Linked DNA regions of Homo sapiens. The protein of the gene in region 1 purifies or fractionates together with the protein of each later gene. This does not show direct contact. Each region holds a gene or a part of one and is shown in the gene's direction. Other genes may lie near its edges. The genes, in order: HDDC2 and TRIT1.

What was found.
Region 2: the proteins of HDDC2 (region 1) and TRIT1 fractionate together in Homo sapiens (co-fractionation; one large-scale study listed by BioGRID). This does not show direct contact.

The regions. Positions count from the first base shown.
Region 1 is NC_000006.12:125,299,726-125,303,639, reverse strand, and holds the start of HDDC2 (5'-deoxynucleotidase HDDC2), read left to right. Parts: upstream 1-1,672; 5' UTR 1,673-1,707; coding exon 1,708-1,791; intron 1,792-1,879; exon of another isoform or gene 1,880-2,042; intron 2,043-2,287; exon of another isoform or gene 2,288-2,396; intron 2,397-2,980; coding exon 2,981-3,102; intron 3,103-3,914. UniProt on the Homo sapiens protein: Catalyzes the dephosphorylation of the nucleoside 5'-monophosphates deoxyadenosine monophosphate (dAMP), deoxycytidine monophosphate (dCMP), deoxyguanosine monophosphate (dGMP) and deoxythymidine monophosphate (dTMP).
Region 2 is NC_000001.11:39,845,438-39,849,251, reverse strand, and holds part of TRIT1 (tRNA dimethylallyltransferase isoform 1 precursor), read left to right. Parts: intron 1-1,154; coding exon 1,155-1,266; intron 1,267-1,504; exon of another isoform or gene 1,505-1,591; coding exon 1,592-1,704; intron 1,705-1,954; coding exon 1,955-2,032; intron 2,033-3,814. UniProt on the Homo sapiens protein: Catalyzes the transfer of a dimethylallyl group onto the adenine at position 37 of both cytosolic and mitochondrial tRNAs, leading to the formation of N6-(dimethylallyl)adenosine (i6A37).

The DNA.
Region 1 (3,914 bases):
GTCTGCCACCATGATCCAATCACCTCCCACCAGGCCCCTCCTCCAACTTTGAGGATTACAGTTTGACATGATATTTGGGTGGGGTCACAGAGCCAAACTATATCACTCCTTAAACCTCAAATGCCTCCTCCTCTATTCACAAACATTCTAGCCTCCTTTCTTCCCAGAGGCCTAGCAAGATTGCACTCCACAGGCCCCCTTTGAAGTTAGACGTGGCAGTGTTACTTATTTCACCAATGATACGTAGACAAAAGGTCATATATCACTTCCAGAGACAGGCTTTAAGAGCCAGAGTGCCACTTTTCTTTTTTCCAATTTTGGCAAAAGAGAGCAAAGAAAGCCTCCTAGCTCCCTGAGTAAGGTTAGAGCAAGCAGCATCCTCTAGCTGATCTACAATAGACACTTAGCATGAGAGAGAAATAAACCTTTGATGTGTTAAACTGCTGAGATACAGGAAATAAGGAGGTTGTTTGTTATTATAACATCCCAGCCTATACTTTGCTTCCTAATTTGGTGAGAAAATAGAAGCAATCAGAAGAGAACTTCTACAACCTCCCATGACCACATGTGCGACTGATTAGTCACCCTATACTCTGTCCTCCTCCAATATTTGAATGAATTCTCCATATTCCTATCTAAAGCCCATCTTTTATCTTGTACACCAGATGGGAATATTTTTCCTTACTCAAGGCCGACATTCAAATATTTCTCTTCTTTGTCTCTTACATAATCAATGTTTCCCTTTCTACTAGATCCCCTTCATCAGTAAACATACATAATATCTCCTGTTTTGAAACAATCTCTCCACTAGTTAACAGCACCCCAACCCCATCTCCAATGTGCTGTAATACTTGCTCCTATTCTCTTCGGAATTATCTCACTAGGTTCTGCTTGGCCCACTACACTGAAAACTGCTTTTGTCAGGGTAACCAATAATATTGAATTTACTAAGTCTGGAAGTCAAACCTTGGTCCTCACATTGACTTGGTTGACCATATTCCTTCCTTCTTGAAATATTTTTGTACATGGCTTCCAGGACACAACTATCCTACCTACTAATCCTCTTCCTACCTCACTGGCTGTTCCCTCTTGATCTCACAAAGCCTAAATGTTGGGGTTCAGGTCTTGGGTGTCTTTTCTTCTTCATTCACACCCTCTTGCCAGGTGACCTCATCCAGTTTCATGGTTTTACACTGTCAACTGAAGAATAACGAGGTTCATAAATTTAGAAAGGAGAGCTTTATTTTTCATAAAGAGTACTGAGTGTCAAGTATGTGCCAAGCAAGGTGTCTGCCACTGACGGAGCAATGCCCAAGCAGCGGACACCAAGGCCAAGAAGGCGAAGGCTGGACAGAAGGTCCTGAGAAAACCGTGAGAATATGGAGGAGGGGGAGGAGGAATAAGAACAGGAGGAGGAGGGGGAGGAGGAATAAGAACAGGAGGAGGAGGAAGAGGAGGGGGAGAGAGGAAGAGGGGCAGGAGGAAGAGGAAGAGGAGAAAGCGGAAGTGGGGGAGGAGGAGGAGGAGTTGGAAGGGGAGGAGGAAGAGGGGGAGCAGGAAGAGGGGCAGAAGGAAGAAGAAGAGGGGGAGGAGAAAGAGATAGAAGAGTAAGAGGAGGGGGAAGAAAGACAAGGGGAAGGGGAGGAGGAGGAGGACGGGGAGGAGCTTCGCCGCGGCCTGCTCCGCCCAGCCGGGGTCGGTGGCCGCATGGCTTCGGTCTCCTCTGCGACCTTCTCGGGCCACGGGGCTCGGTCCCTACTGCAGTTCCTGCGGCTGGTAGGGCAGCTCAAGGTGAGCGGGCACCAGGCCGGGAGGCCGCGGCCGAGCGGGCGGGACTGTGGGGCGGCGGAGCTTCCGGCCTCCCCGCTCGGCCGGCGGTCTTTGCCCTTCCTGCGCCGCGTCCGCCACGCCGAATTCCGGAAAGGCCCCAGTCCTGCGGATGCGGCCGCGCGTTGCCGACGGTGGACGGAGGAAGCAGCCGGCGGGACAGGCTGGCCAGCTGGGGCGGCCCGGAGTCTGAGCCTAGAGCCTGGCGCCGCGAGGTCCGCACTGCAGCCGCGCCAGTTCCCGGAGAGCAGCCGGCCTGGCCCTGCCTGCACTGAGCTTTTCCGGGGCTCACGACCCCAGAACTCGTGTGTGTGTGTGTGTGTGTGTGTGCTCACGACCCCAGAACTCGTGTGTGTGTGTGTGTGTGTGTAAAGCGCGGCTGCTTCTGAGCACGGGTGGGAAGAACAGAATCTGTCGGCTCCTCAGATTTTAAGTGGAGCTTTTTATGTCTGTCTCACAGTTACTTCCAGAAACAAGACTTTTCTCCCGGCCACCCCCCAAACGGGATTTAATGTAATACACACGAGTTTCATCATGTGCGTCTTCCCCGTCTCTCTCCCAAGTTCAAAGTAAATTATCCGTTTCATGCCACTCTGACTACTATTTATAACATTCCTTAGAGATGTAGAATTCTGAGGAAGAAATGCAGTTTCACAAGATGAAGTTATGATGTGAATAAAAGGAAGAGTCACGGCTGGTAGCATCAAGCAATTAGAAGTGCCCTTATCCCTTGTGCCTCAGAATTTGGAAGCCTATCACTCGTTCACGTTCAGACCCTTCAATACAGTGTTTTCTGCTTGTGTAGGATTATTTGAAGGCAAAAAGCCGCAACTCTTGTTCGGAAAAATGCAGTTTTGTTTTTGTTTAAAGGACTTGCATATGTTCCATAATTATACATCAGTAACAGAATAATTTGACGAATGGACTTTGTGACTTATCTCTCTCTGTCTTCTACCCCTTTCATTCTCTGAGCTCTCTAGTTCATTTGATTCCAGATGTCTATCATTTTAGCTAGTTTAGCAAAACATTTTGTAATAGGTTCTGAAATTATGACCCGGCTTCTGTGTGTTATATCCTGGACATCTCTTGAAGAGCATAGCAGATAGTTAATATTTGTTCTTTAAAACTTCTTTTTCTTCTTCATATTTATCAGAGAGTCCCACGAACTGGCTGGGTATACAGAAATGTCCAGAGGCCGGAGAGCGTTTCAGATCACATGTACCGGATGGCAGTTATGGCTATGGTGATCAAAGATGACCGTCTTAACAAAGACCGGTAAGCTGAGCTGGACTTTGATGCTCGTGAGAGATTCTGGTCTATGGGTGTGCACCCGTTTTTACTACTGAGACCCATGTCAAATCCTTGTAGGTTAGTTTATAGGTCAAGAAAAATTATTTGAAGCAAACCATACAAATTTAGGATGTGGGTTATGTTGCCTCAGTTGTTGTAAACTGCAATCTGGGGTTTCTGTTGGCAAGTGATAGAGCCTGCCTAGGGTATCAGGGGAAACTTAAGTGTGATATTGGGGCCTTGAAGGTGAGTGTGTTATGTCTAAAATTCTAGCATTGTATTAGTACACTGTGTGCTCTTTCCTAGTGCCTTTTATGGATAGTAGTATCCATTCGTGAGGCTTCCTTTTGGAGTTGTGTGTGCAAGACATAGCTGAGAAAGAGGTATCTTCTCCCCCTTCATTTAATCGACAAGTGTTAAAATGCTTTTTGAGCACAGAACAAAAGTTTACTAGCATGTAAGAGAGTAAATAAATCCCAAGTGAATTACGCAGGCCCAAAATAGCTTCTGTAAGAAGTGAAATGTAAGTTATGGTCGAAAATGTTAAGTATTGTAAGAGCAGGGGAGATCACCTGTTCTTGGTTGATCTTAATGGAGGAGGTGCAATCTGAGTTGAGCTCAAAAGGGTTAACGTAGCCAGAGAGGTAGGAGAAGTCACTGCATGCAGAGAGAAGGGCAGATAAACCAAAGCCCTGAGTGTAGGAAAGTAAAGGAGTATTTTGCAAATGAGAAATTAATCAACTTGACTGCAGCAAAGAGTTCATTTGGGAAGCCTGAGGAGTCCTCTGTTACTCAGC
Region 2 (3,814 bases), on another chromosome or scaffold:
CTCCTGTAAAATAGAGATAATAGTAATAACACATATTTCCTAGCTTCATCAAGGATTAGATGAATTAATACATATATAGTGCTCAGAATGTGCCTGACACATGACGGGTCCTCAATAAATGCAAACTTTCTAGGAAGGTTACTGTTGCTGTAGGCCAATAAATCACAATGATAGAGATGTAGAAGAACATAATTAAAATGGTGACAATCTGTTGTTAAATTAATCTGCCATAAATTGATAAAAAAGGTAATTTTTCAATAATGAAATTTTATAAACAAAAACTTTTACTCTACAGGCAGCATAAAATAATGGTATCTGATTCATAGTAAAGCTGTTTGTCACATCTGAACAATTACGACCTCTCACTCTTTGCTCCTTTGCTTGGCTCAGTAGTTTAGAATGTATCTAGGATGTCTTTTTTTTTTGTTTGAGACAGAGTCTCGCCCTGTTGCCCAGGCTGGAATGCAGTGGTGCGATCTCGGCTCACTGCAACCTCTGCCTCCCGGGTTCAAGCGATTCTCCTGCCCCAGCCTCCCAAGTAGCTGGGATTACAGGCGCGCGCCACTACGCCCAGCTAATTTTTGTACTTTTGGTAGAGACAGATTTCACTGTGTTGGTCAGGCTGGTCTCGAACTCTTGACCTCGTGATCCACCCACCTCGGCCTCCCAAAGTGCTGGGATTACAGGCGTGAGCCACCTTGCCCGGCCGTATCTAGGATGTCTTTGGATTAAAGTTCCATGTTCTTATCCAAGGTGTCATCTAGGGGTTCTTAAACATAAAGTAACACTAAGTTGCAGTATAATGACATATTAAATTAAAAATAAGAAAGGTAAACCAGGGGATCCTCAGCCACCTCTAAAACACATTCCATATGAGAATAAAATATTTGTCCTTCACAGTTGCTGTAATTGTATGCTTTCTCTATATAATGAGGAGGCATGTGCTTCATTCTGACTATGCTTCATTTTTATTTGGAGTTGCAAAGTCTTAAATGTGAGTAACGTATGAATTATTATAATAATCTTTGGAATCTGAATTCTTTCTTCCGTTTGGACAAATTCTCTTTTTTTGTGACCACCTGTTCACTCGTCATGTAAGTATATAGTAGGTACCTACAACTTGCTTGCTGGTTGATGGGCTAATTTGATTCAAGTTCTAGATGAGCGCTTGGATAAGAGGGTGGATGACATGCTTGCTGCTGGGCTCTTGGAGGAACTAAGAGATTTTCACAGACGCTATAATCAGAAGAATGTTTCGGAAAATAGGTGAGGATTTGGCTGTTATTCTGACCTACTGTCCATATTTTGCAGACAATCAAAAGACCATAACGCTAATACTGGCTTTGGGTCTACTTGTTTATCAGCCTTCTTTGCAGATGCAGTTTTTTAATCTTTCAGACAGTCCCAGGAGTTAACTTTTCAAGAAAGTAACCTGGTGGGTAGGGGAGGGGAAAATTTCAGAGAATCAGTAACTGCTCAGGATCTCAATTTCCTTATCTGACAGATGAAATGGCTCAACTAGGTCCATCTCCAAAGCCCCTGCTAGCTTTTAGGAGCAATGGCTTATCTGCTGATACCCTCCTGTTCCCAGCCAGGACTATCAACATGGTATCTTCCAATCAATTGGCTTCAAGGAATTTCACGAGTACCTGATCACTGAGGGAAAATGCACACTGGAGACTAGTAACCAGCTTCTAAAGAAAGGTGTGAATTCTTCCATCTAATCTAGTCTTGGACATCTTTGGGTGGCAGGGTACTCTGCTGGTATGGTCTGAGAAAGAGCCAAGGCTTAAAGCGTCCCAAATAGCCTTCAGCTCAGAACTGAGATTTTTGTCCACCAAGTCTGACATTGCACTGCCGTGGCTGACTTTTTCCTGCTGGGCTGGGAGGGCCTGCCTCTCTGCAGGGTAAGGAGTGCTTACCTAGATGTTCTTAAATCTACTGTATCTTTCAGGTATTGAGGCTCTGAAACAAGTAACTAAGAGATATGCCCGGAAACAAAACCGATGGGTTAAAAACCGTTTTTTGAGCAGTAAGTCTCATGTTTTTCTTTATCCTATGGGTCTGTTTTCAATAGAATATAGATGTCCTCAGCTCACCCAGAAAATGAATTTTAGATTCTGGGCCTGTTCTAAGATTTTGGATCTGACCTAAGGGAAGTTCTATAACATAAATGATTATCCAGGGATATTTTCTTGGGATGTCACAAAAAAAAAAAAAATTATTTGCATTGAGGAGTCTGCCTTCTGCCTTGAACAGATGGATACTGGCTGCAAACAGCTAAGAAGAACAGCAGCATCTTTTTTGGAGAGTTGGTGTTCAGGGCTGATTTTTAGCTTCAGTTTTGTACCTGAAGAGCAGTCAGATTTCTGTAGGGAAGATTTCCTAATTACAGTGTTTTTGGGGGGCCAGATGAGTTGTATAAAAAGACACCTTCACCATTTCTCCCAGCGTCTCCACATGGTGCTTCAGATTGCTTCAAATGAAACTTTAGTTGAACAGCATTTTTGAGGGAAAAGAAAGGAAATTCTCATTGATTTGGCCCTGTACTGTGTCTTTGGCACTAAATTTGGTGTTATACATATATTATTGAGTCTTCAAGGTAGGTGTTATTCTTTTATTTTTACAGATAAGAAAATGAAGGCCTAGTGAAGTTAAATAACTTGCCAAAAATCACCCAGCTAGTCGGCAGTAGATAACTGAATGCAGGCCTGACACAGAGTCCACACTCCTTTATACTACTCTTACTTCCTTTAGCTGTAACTTTAGCAAGACAGCATTAGTATTGGACCATGGGTAAAAACTATGTGGTTATGAGCTAAAGGAGATTAATTTAAGCATAAGTGAAACTTCAGTTTTATCTTGTGGACATGTTTTAAATATGCTTCTGAATCATCTTGTGTTTACCTTTTGCTGGTAGACTTCTGCTCTCAATTACAGACAGGGCCAGCTGAAGCCTCTGCCCCACTCGGTGCCTCTGAAAATACATACCTTGATCCCTGCTGTTGACCACTAAACTGCTAACATTCTTTCTCCCAGCTCCCACTCTCTGCCTGAGCTCTCCAGTGGAGTTCTGGTGTGAAGAGGCTTGTTGTGCTTTCCTCTACTTATCCTGTTTTCTCTGCATGTCCTGGTAGATAGAAGTCTTAGTGTCATCTGAAGTTGAAGCTCAGTGCTGTATTACAAATTTCTAATGCAGCTTCTCTTATCCCCATGTCTGACAATAAGCCTTTAACAGAAGACTTTTGGGTAATAATTTAGAACTTCTTCCTGTAGTAAAACCACAATAATTCCTCCATCTCTGTGGTAGGAGGAGTTGATGGCACAGTGTGTCATATGCCTGTTCCTCATTCGTGTGTATGCCGGCATCGTCCTGGTGCTGGAGTGAAAGGCACAGCTGCCCTGTAAATCAGGAGCTGTGCGTGATTGGCCAGGGCTGGTCTGCTGGGATATGGTTCTGGCAGGAAGCCAGGGGGACTTCCCCACCCCAGCATGGCCTTGGACCCAAGCCAGAAATAGCAGCTGGGAGCCGAGAACTTGTTGAAAGGTGCTTAGACAGGGCACAGAAGCCCAACAAAGGGCTTAGAGGAGAAAGGAAAATGTAGAGTGGCCTGGAAACAGGTGCAGAGCTTAGCCAAGGCCAGGTGTGCTGTGGATGCTGCCTGCACCCTCCTAGTCTCACCTTTCCTGTGGTAGCAGGTGCAGCCCAGTCCAGTTTATGAAGAATCTTATTTGGGGTTGGCACAATCAAAAGGCCAGCACCTGCCAGTCGTTGGCATCCGAAGGCCTTTGATGTTTTTGCCCATGGGCGATG